Linked DNA regions of Homo sapiens: region 2 is linked to region 1. Evidence: fine-mapped expression QTL. Tissue or cell type: whole blood. Region 1 holds a variant in brackets; the other region holds the start of a gene. All regions are shown on one strand. Distances are between the middles of the regions.

The links. PIP is the estimated chance that this variant, and not a neighbour inherited with it, causes the effect. A credible set is the group of variants that fine-mapping cannot tell apart.
Region 2: it holds the start of EIF3G, and the variant in region 1 is the best candidate, but not a certain one, in a credible set for the expression of EIF3G in whole blood (INTERVAL, PIP 0.58).

What each region holds. Positions count from the first base shown.
Region 1 is chr19:10,182,524-10,187,892 of GRCh38, forward strand. All of the region lies in intron 1 of DNMT1 (DNA methyltransferase 1), which reads right to left. Among named protein-coding and RNA genes, the nearest start is that of DNMT1, 9.7 kb to the right of the region's middle. RefSeq lists an enhancer at 1,412-1,912. The variant T/A (reference allele first, on the strand shown) is at 2,497.
Region 2 is chr19:10,116,693-10,122,061 of GRCh38, forward strand. EIF3G (eukaryotic translation initiation factor 3 subunit G) reads right to left here and starts at 3,207. Exons shown (of 11, transcript NM_003755.5): 1 at 3,148-3,207; 2 at 2,962-3,008; 3 at 2,396-2,479; 4 at 2,176-2,264; 5 at 1,976-2,035; 6 at 392-496; 7 at 108-297. The coding sequence starts at 3,167. RefSeq lists enhancers at 1,953-2,709, 2,710-3,465.

The sequences.
Region 1 (5,369 bases):
TGTATATGTGTATATATACATATGTGTATATATATATACACACACACACAGCAGCTCTGTAACAGAGTATGTGTGTATATATGTATGTATATATGTGTATATATATACACACACATATATACATACATACATATACATTATACAGATAGATAGACAGACAGACAGACATGGAGTCTCGCTCTGTTGCCCAGGCTGGAGTGCAGTGGTGCGATCTCAGCTCACTGCAACCCTCACCTTCTGGGTTCAAGTGATTCTCTCACCTCAGCCTCCCAAGTAGCTGGGATTATAGGTGCCACCAGCCTCGTTAATTTTTTGTATTTTGAGTAGAGACAGGGTTTCACCATGTTGGTTAAGCTGGTCTTAGATTCCTGACCTCAAGTGATCCGCCTGCCTCAGTCTCCTGAAGTGCTAGGATTACAGGCATGAGTCACCATGTCTGGCATGCATATATATATACACGTATATATATACACGTATATGTGTGTATATATACATATATATGTGTATATATACGTATATATGTGTATACATACGTATATATGTATACATATGTGTGTGTATATATATATACACGTATATATACGTGTGTATATATATATATATTTTTTTTTTTTGAGATAGGGTTTTGCTCTTGTTGCCCAGGCTGGAGTGCAATGGTGTGATCTCAGCTCAACCTCCGACTCCCAGGTTCAAGCGATTCTCCTGGCTCAGCCTCCCGAGTAGCTGGGATTACAGGCATGCACCACCACACCCAGCTAATTTTATATTTTTAGCAGAGACAGGGTTTCTCCGTGTTGGTCAGGCTGGTTTCGAACTCCCGACCTCAGGCGATCCACCTGCCTCAGCCTCCCAAAGTGCTGGGATTACAGGCATGAGCCATCATGCCCAGCCTGTATATTTTAAAAGGTACCAGAGACCAGGCATGGTGGCTCACGCTTATAATCCCAGCACTTTGGGAGGCCAAGGCGAGCGGATCACTTGAGCCCAGGCGTTCAGACCAGCCTGGGAAACATGGCGAAACTCCATCTCTACAAAAATACAAAAATTAGTGGCTGGGCGTGGTGGCTGATGCCTGGAATCCCAACATACAGCAGCAGTTGGGTGGATTACCTGAGGGCCAAGGTGGGTGGATTACCTGAGGTCAAGGGTTTGAGACCAGCCTGGCCAACATGGCGAAACCCCATCTCTACTAAAAATACAAAAATTAGCCAGGCGTGGTGGTGGGTGGCTGTAATCCCAGCAACTTGGGAGGCTGAGGCAGGAGAATCACTTGAACCCGGGAGGCAGAGGTTGCAGTGAGCTGGTCACACCATTGCACTCTAGCCTGGGCAACAAGAGTGAAACTCTGTCTCAAAATAAAATAAAATAAAATAAAATAAAAATAACTGGGTTTGGTGGCATGTGCTTGTGGTCCCAGTTACTTGGGAGGCTGAGGAAGGAAGATCACCTGAGCCTGGGAGGTCGAGGCCACAGTGAGCCGTGATTGCATCACTGCACTCCAATCTAGGAGACAGAGTGAGACCCTGACTCAAAAAGATACCAGGAAAGAGGGGGCAGGTCATATAGTTGGGGCACTCCCGTAAGGGAAATGACCTACAGCTGGTCTTTCTCCAGTTGGGTCTGACAACAGCCCATAACAAGGTGTGCCACAGTATGGCCAGTGTCAGAATGAGTAGCCCAGGGCCACAGGACACTGTGGGGAACAGCCAGCTGATGTTCCTAAAGGCCTGGTGGGGGGTGGTGGCATTTTGAGGATGAAATGGGGGAGTCAAGCATCCAGGGAAGCAAGGGGTACCCACACAGAGGGCAGATAGAGGTGAAGTTAGAGGAGGTGGCTGGCGCCTCCCCGAATAACTCATTCTTCAGGATGTCTCTAGCTAGTCATTCCTAAATGTAGAACTGCCAGGAGTTTGCCTGGGAAATCGTGGTCTGATTTGATTACTGACAATTAGTAGCTTGACTCTTTCAGGGACAAAGAGGGAAAAAAATAAAAGAACAATAGCCGGTGCAGTGCCGCGGTGCTGCGTGCCTGTAACCCCAGCTACTCAGGAGGCTGTGGTGGGAGGATGGCTTGTGGGCAGGAGTTCGAGTCCAGCCTGGACAACATAGGGCGATCCTATCTCTTCAGAAAAAAATAAAGGAACAAGAAGAGAAGGTACCAAGGAAAGGGAGAGGAACACAGGCTGTTGTTCCCAGCCTGGGTGCTAACTACAGACTGCGGGGTGAGAACAGGCCTAACCAGCTGGGTAAGTGTCTGTTGGTGGAGAGAAGGTGCCCCAGGCAGGGACCAGGCCACTGCCATCTCTGGACCTTTCCACCTAGCACCCGCACAGACAGGTGCTCAGTTATCATTTGCCTGAAGGGCAGAAGTGGCTCCTCCAGGCTGGCCTTCCTAGAGGGTAAGTGCAGGCAGCAGCATGAGGAATGCTTTGCTGGACCCATGTCTTACAACAGCTGCTCTGGGTCATGCGGGCCCTGATTCCCCACCAGCGCCGC[T/A]CACATATGAGCACCTGCTGAATGCCAGGCCCTGCTCCAGGCAAAGAGCTAAGTGATTAGATGTAGGTGTCACTAGGCAGGGACTTCCTGACTTGCTGTGTGGTTAGGAAAGACCATTCTGTAGGGCCGGGCACGGTGGCTCACGCCTGTAATCCCAGCACTTTGGAAGGCTGAGGTGGGCGGATCATGAGGTCAGGAGATGGAGACCATCCTGGCTAACACAGTGAAACCCCGCCTCTACTAAAAATACAAAAAATTAGCCAGGCGTGGTGGTGGGCGCCTGTAGTCCCAGCTACTCAGGAGGCTGAGGCAGAAGAATGGCGTGAACCCGGGAGGTGAAGCTTGCAGTGAGCCAAGATCATGCCACTGCACTCCAGCCTGGGCAACAGAGCAAAACTCTGTCTCAAAAAAAAAAAAAAAAGACTGCTCTGTAGAAGAGACACTTAGCACCCTACAAACACAGTGGTAATATAGACTGTATATTATATATACTGTATCACTTGGACTCAAGGTGCTACAAGGCCAGGCAAGACGCAGTGGCTCATGCCTGTAATCCCAGCACCTTGGGAGGCCAAGGCAGGAGGATCACTTGAGGTCAGGAGTTTGAGACCAGCCTGGGCTACACTGAGAGATCCCATCTCTACAAAAAAAATGTAAAAATTAGCTGGGTGTGGTTAGTGTGCACCTGTGGTACCAGCTACTTGGGAGGCTGAGGTGGGAGGATCGCTTGAGCCTGGGAGGTTGAGGCTGCAGTGAGTTATGATGGTACCACTGCAATCCAGCCTGTTCAGCCTGGGCAACAGAACAAGACCCTGTCTCAAAAGAAAAAAAAAAAAAAAAAAAGATGCTTTGACATCAGGATTTCCAGGAGCACAAGGAACCTCTTCCAGGCAAAAGTCATTCTACCCTTGTAGCAACTGGGGTCCAAGGAGAGCCTTAAGTCAGGAGGGCTACAGAAACTGGTACTTCCAGCCAGAGGCACACACGCTGTGGTAATAGCGTTACACTTGACTTCTCAGTCACGCCGCTGAGAAAACTGGAAGGACATGGCTTCTACCTCGACCAAGCCAGCCAGTCCCCTGATCCCGAGGTTGCCTGGGGTGTGAAGGACAAGGTTCAACTGATTGCGGAGACCAAGGTGTCCTTGCAGAATGGGTCTGCTTTCTTTCAACCCCTCATATGAACTGGGATATTTAGCCTGGCAAAGAGAATAGAGAAACCTTCAAAACCCCTAGAATGTTTCATCCAGTAGAAACTGGATTTAACCTGCCTGGCCCCAGAGTGGCAGGTGGGATCCCAGGCAGGCAGTGAGGAGCTGGCGGGAGGGTAACTTTAGCGACATCCCTTCCCTGGTAAAACTGTGATGACACCGATCACACCTGCTGAAGCCAGGAGGGTCGCAGACAGCCGTGAAGGACGGAGCAGAGGACTCAGAATGCCGGCTTAGTGCCCAGCCTGAGACCCTATGATTCCTTCCTAGTGCTTCCCTCAGAGATGAACCCTCTGCAGAGGGGAGATAAGATATATATAAACAGCTGGCCAGGCACGGTGGCTCATGCCTGTAATCCCAGCACTTTGGGAGGCCGAGGCGGGCGGATCACCTGAGGTCAGGAGTTCGAGACCAGCCTGACCAACATGAAGAAACTTCGTCTTTACTAAAAATCCAGAATCAGCCAGGCATGGTGGCACATGCCTATAATCCCAGCTACTCAGGAGGCTGAGGCAGGAGAATCGCTTGAACCCGGGAGGTGGAGGCTGCGGTGAGCCAAGGTCACGTCATTGCACTCCAGCCTGGACAACAAGAGTGAAACTCCGTCTCAAAAAAAAAAAAAAAAAAAAAGATATATATAAACAACCACAGAGGAATAAGGCAAATACAGCTCACGCCTGCGGGATTCCCAAGAGAAAGGGTATAACAGCCTCAGGAAGAAGTTGACAGCTCTGTGTGAACCGGGCACAGGAAGCTGCTCAAACAGGGGCACCATTGAGAAGTGGCTGGTTCTGGAAACACACAAGAAACAAACGTGAGACTGGCCACATACAGGGAGGGAAAGGCACCTCCAGAGAGGTGGCTGGGGACAGTCGGAGGGAGGGCAAAAGCATCACACTTATCCATCTTGTTCCATAGTTAACAAACACCAAAGCAGTCAAGGGGAAGTAGAACCAATGACATCAGAGCCGTGTTAAGAAAACTAACCCAGCAGAGGTATCTAGTATAGATTGGATAGGAAGAAATTATAAAATGTTAGATTACTCTAACACCTCTACGCCAGAAATGCTCGTCTGAAATACAGCAGACCATGGCTGGGCGCAGTGGCTCATGCCTGTAATCTCTACACTCGGGAAGCCAGGACAGGAAGATCACTTGAGCCCAGGAATTCGAGACTAGCCTGGGCAACAGAGCGAGACCCTGTCTCTACAAGAAAGAATAATTAGCTGGCTGTGGTAGCATGCACCTATAGTCTTAGCTACTCGGGAGGCAGAGGCGGGAGGATCACTAGAGCTCAGGAATTTGTGACCAGCCTGGGCAATACAGTGAGACCCTGTCTCTACGAGAAAACAGTAATTAGCTGGGTATGACAGCACGCACCTGTACTCCTAGCTGCTCAGGAGGCCGAGGCGGAAGGATCACTAGAGCCCAGGAATTTGAGACCAGCCTGGGCAACACAGCGAGAACCTGTCTCTACAAAAAATAGTAATTAGCTGGGTGTGGTGGCATGCACCTATAGTCTTAGCTACTCAGGAGGCTGAGGCGGGAGGATCACTAGAGCCCAGGAATTCAAGACCAGCCTGAGCAACACAGCGAGACCCTGTCTCTACAAAAAATAGTAATTAGTAATTAGCTGGGTGTGCTAGCATGTGCCTATAGGCCT
Region 2 (5,369 bases), 66 kb before region 1:
TCTGGCACCATCAAACCCGCTGCACTGTCGTGCGGGAGATGACAGCACGAAGGCAGCAGTGGGGACAGAACCCGTGCACTGACAGCAGGACCCTCCCACCCCCACACCTCCCGGCAGCTTCTCCTTCTCGCCAGTAGACAGGCCCAGCTGCTCGGCCAGCTCCTTCTGCATGGGCCCCAGCGTATCCTTGTAGGGGCAGCGGGTGGTCCAGTGGTCGCCCTTGCAGATGCGGCAGGACACGATCTTCTGGCCCTTGAGTTTGTTCATAGGGTCCTCCTCCTCCTGGCAGTTCAGGTCCTGGCAGGGGCGGGTTGGGGGGAGCTCAGAGGCGGCTAAGGCACCCCCTTTGCCCCACCCCAGGATGCCAGCCCCACCTGATTGCCCCGCTTACCTCTTTGCTGGTGATGAACGTCATAGAGACATCGTCACTGACAGTGGTGGTGGCCACATTGGGTCCGGGGGGGTCAAACTCTGAGTTCCCGAACTTCTTCCAGTTCTGGGCTCAGGGAGGGATGGGGGACAGTTGAGGGCAGGGGCAGGCTGGGTTCCACAGTGGGGTGCCCTAGACCTACAACAGCCACCCCCAGAGTGTCTGGGCCTCAAACCCCATCTTCATCCTCCTCAAGCACTCCCTGAACAGTCCTGGCGACAGTTGTTTCCTGAGTACACGCCAGGCCTGAGCTCCAGGAGGCAGGGCAGCTGTCAGCCTCCGGGTCCAGGTGACAGCTACACAGCGTGGGGCCTGCGCAGTCTGGCGGACCAGCTCCCACCAGGGCGCAATACTCAGGGATGTGCAGGGGTCCACCTAGACCTCCGGGCCCTTGAGCTAGACAACCTGAGCCTCAGCTTCCTCCCTTATAAAACGGGAACCACAAAAGCTTCCTGCCTCCCTGGGCTCCTAAGGAGACTGAATGAGAAACACTTCGTGCAAGGTGCTTGGCATGGGGTATGTTACAATTAAGTGCACAGCAAGCTGTTCTAAGTATACTTATTGCTAACGCTTCTTCCAAAAACTGCTGCGACCACCTCCTGCTTCCGTTCCTGCAGGTTGACAGGCCAAGAGGAATAAGAATCTAACCGTGGCTGGGCGCAGTGGCTCCCTCCTGTAATCCCAGCACTTTGAGAGGCGAAGGTGGGAGATCTCTCAAGCCCAGGAGCTGGAGACCAGCCTGGGCAACATAGTGAAACCCCATCTCTACAAACAATTAAAATTAGCCGGTGTGGCAGTGCACACCTGTAATCTCAGCTACTCAGGAGGGTGGGGTGGGAGGATGGCTTGAGCCTGGGAGTTCAAGGCTGCAGTAAGCTATGATCGTGCCACTGTACTCCAGCCTGGGCAACAGAACTGGACACTGTGTCTTTAAAAAAATTAAAAGAATCTAATTTTTATTCGATATTTACAATCGATGTTATTTGATATTTATTAATATAATTTGATATCTATCATCGAACTTTGATTAGATATTTATCATCATTTATTTAGTTGCTATTTATCGACTGCTGTGCCTTGGACTTTTCAGGGCCCCAAGACAGTGCAAGCACCCCAGGCCTCAGTTCAGCTTCAACAAAATAGGTACAAAGAGGTAAGCCTGGCCGGGTGCGATGGCTCACACCTGTAATCCCAACACTTTGGGAGGCCTAGGTGCGCAGATCATGTGAGGTCAGGAGTTCGAGACCAGCCTGGCCAACATGGCAAAACCCCGTCTCTACTAAAAGTACAAAAATTAGCTGGCGTGGTGGCACATGCCTGTAACCCCAGCTACTCGGGAGGCTGAGGCAGGAGAATCACTTGAACCCAGGAGGCGGAGGTTGCAGTGAGTCGAGATCGTGCCACTGCACTTCAGCCTGGGGGACAGAGCAACACTCTGTCTCAAAAAAAAAAAAAAAAAAGAGTTAAGCCCCATCTCTAAACACAAAGTCCGGGAGCACGGTTTTCCAATTCCTCTAGGTTAGCCCTGGGGAAGAAGAGCCTCACCTTCCTCCTTGCGACAGCCTTTGAAGCCTTCCGGGTCTCAATCCTGAAGGTGCGGACAATCTGAGGATGGGAGGGGAGAAGGGTCAGGCTCCTGGGACCAAGGGATCTCCTTTATCAACCTCCTCAACACACCCCACCCCATTCCGGTCTATGGGCCCCCAAGCACAAGGGTCCCCACTCCCTGCACCCCCCACCCTCACCTTGAACTTCTTGCCATCCTCATCTATCTTGTACTCTGTCACTGTCTTTATGTTTCCGTTGATGACCTCCTTGGGAGGCGGCAGTGGAGCTGGCAGAAGGGGAAAAACAGAGAAAGACTGAGCCCTGGGTCATGGGGATCAGGAGCGGCAGGGCTGGAGGGAGAGGCAGCCCGGACACCGAGTGGCAGTCCTCACTCACCTCCCGGCAGTCCTCACTCACCTCCCGGCAGTAGCTCTGGCTCTGGGCTGGTGTCACCTGTGGCCAGAGGGATCCCCTTGAGGAGCTCGCTGGTGACACATTTGTCTGCAAAAGGCAGCGTAGGAAGGAGGAGTCAGCTCCAGGGGCAGGAGCTCCCCAGCTGCGATGGAAGGGCTTTTGGGATGACGCCTACAGCAAAAGCGGAGAAAGGCAGGCCAAGGGCAGAGGGCTGGCCAGGCAACGCACTGGGATGGCCCTGTGGGGACTCGGAGTGGCAAGGATGGGAGATCCCTCGTAGGAAGGTGGGTGCCAGGCCATGAAGCCAACCAGGCGCCAGTAGAGAAACAGGAGACGGGAGATTACAACTTCCTCCCTGGAGGGGAACAGCTGGGAGGCAGTGGCATGGGAGGAAGAGGGACCCGCCGGGGAACACCTGGAGTTGGCAACAGGCGGGTCCCAAGGAGGATGGCGCGGGGCAGGGGCAGACCGTGACGGGGTACACGGTGCCAGACTGGGAGATGGAAGCAGGCGGCAGTCACACGGCTTGGGCCTGGCCGCGAATACCCCGGGCGACCGTGTACACTTACCGTCCTCCCCCTCCTCCTCCACCTGGTCGGCCCAACTGGGCTTCGAACTGCGGAAACAAATGTGTGGGGAACGAAGATTAAGTCAGCCAGGCCCGGCTCCCGCAGCCTCGGCGTACCCAGGCCCCATAATACTTCCCAGAGCACCCCAACCGCTTCCCGTGCCCCTTTCCGCGATCGCCGACTCACTCAAAGTCTCCAGTAGGCATCGCAAAAAGTATTCTCCACGCAGCCCAAGCCCGGCCAGAGAGCGGAAGCGGGCGAAAACGAGACTTCCGGTGCCGCCGTCGCCGCCTAGAGGGGCCCAGCCGCGGCACCCACAGCGACACCTGCGGACGGAGGTGGAGGCGCACGCGGCTGTGTATGCTACTGGGCGCTGCTGGTACCAGAGTAGGGCCAGCGGGGGCAGAGGCTGATTTCAGGGCTGGTCCTATTAACCTTTAAAATTAAAATAGGCCAGGCGAGGTGGCTCAAGCCTGTAATCCTCGCACTTTGGGAGGTCGAGGCGGGCGGATCACCTGAGGTAAGGAGTTCGAGACCAGCTTGGCCAACGTGGCGAAACCCCGTCACTACTAAAAACACAAAAATTAACTGGGCGTGGTAGTGCGTGCCTGCAGTTCCAGCTACTCGGGAGGCTGAGGCAGGAGAATCGCTTGAACCCGGGAGGCGGAGGTTGCAGTGAGCCGAGATCGCGCCACTGCACTCCAGCCTGGCGACAGAGCGAGACACCGTCTCAAAAAAAAAAAAAAAAAAAAAATTAGCCAGGCGTGGTGGTGGGCACCTGTAATCCCAGCTACTCGGGAGGCTGAGGCGGGAGAATCGCTTGAACCCAGGAGGCGGAGGCTGCAGTGAGCCGAGATCGCACCACTGCACTCCAGCCTGGGGCTGCAGAGTGAGACTCCGTCTCAGAAAAATAAGTAAAATTAAAATAAATAATAATAATCATAAAGCTCACTTATTGAGTGCTTATTGTATATGAAGCATGGTGAGGAGGATATTACTTCCATTTTACAGCTGAAGAAACTGAGGCTCAGACTGGGTGCAGTGGCGCCTGCCTGTAATCCCGCACTTTGGGAGACCAAGGCGTGGGGATGGCTTGAGGCCAGGAGTTTGAGACAAGCCTGGGCAACATAGTGAGACCCCTGTCTCTAAAAAAGAAAAAAAGAAAAAGAAAGAAAAAAGAAACCAAAGTTCGGGGAAAACAATCCTTTTGCTTAAACTGTTCCTTGTCTTCTTTCCCGATCCCAATGATTCAGATGCCAAGTGGCCTCCCCTCAGCCACTCCCTCTTCTTTTCTTTGTAGCATTCTTGGCTTTCCGGTATAATTTTGTGCATTTACTTGTTTATTGCTCAGCTCCTTGCTCTAAGCACAACCGTCCTCAGTCGAAGTGATTCATGATGACTCCCCAGGGGAAAAAACTGGTCCTCAGGGAGGAAAAAAATCTTAGATATTGTGGTCTTCCAAAGCCAGCTCTATCAGACAGCATTTATCCCTAAGTATTTAGTTTCTGCCTTTAGGGAGATATTAAATGTAATTAAATTGAAATTAATTTAGTTGATGTAAATTCAATTTTAGGATAATTCGGGTTTTCTCCTAAGAAGGGTGATAATGAACAAAAAACGTTTGACAATGTCGGACGCAGTGGCTCACGCCTGTAATCCCAGCACTTTGAGAGGCCAAGATGGGCAGATCTCTTGAAGTCAGGAGTTCGAGACCAGCCTGGGCAATATGGCGAAACCCCGTCTTTACTAAAAATACAAAAATTAGCTGGGTGTGGTGGCCCGCGCCTGTAATCCCAGAACTTTGGGAGACTGAGGCAGAAGGATCACTTCAGCCCTGGAATTCGACCAGCCTGGGCAACACATAGTGAGACCCCCCATCTCTAAAAAACAACTTTTTTTTTTTTTTTTGAGATGGAGTCTCACTCTGTCGCCCAGGCTGGAGTGCAGCGGCGCAATCGCGGCTCACTGCAACCTCTGCCTTCCGGGTTCTAGTGATTCTCCTGCCTCAGCCTCCCGAGTAGCTGGGATTACAGATGACCACCACCACGCCGTGCTAATTTTTGTGTTTTTAGTAGACGGTTTAGTAGAGACGGGGGCCCACCTCGGCCTCCCAAGGTGCTGGGATTACAGGTGTGAGCCACTGCGCCCGGCCCTTAAAAAAATTTTTTTTTTTTAATCAGCTGGGCATAGTTCTGTGTGCCTGTAGTCCCAGATACTCAGGAGGCTGAGGTGGGAGAACAGCTTCAGCCCAGGAGGTTGAGCCATGATCATGCGACTGTACTTCAGCCTGGGTAACAGAGAGAGACCCTGTCTCAAAAACACACACACGCACACACACACACGCAACAAAACAAAAAATAACTTGTAAGGGAGAATGCCCTGAGAAAAATAAATAAGAAGACAGGAAA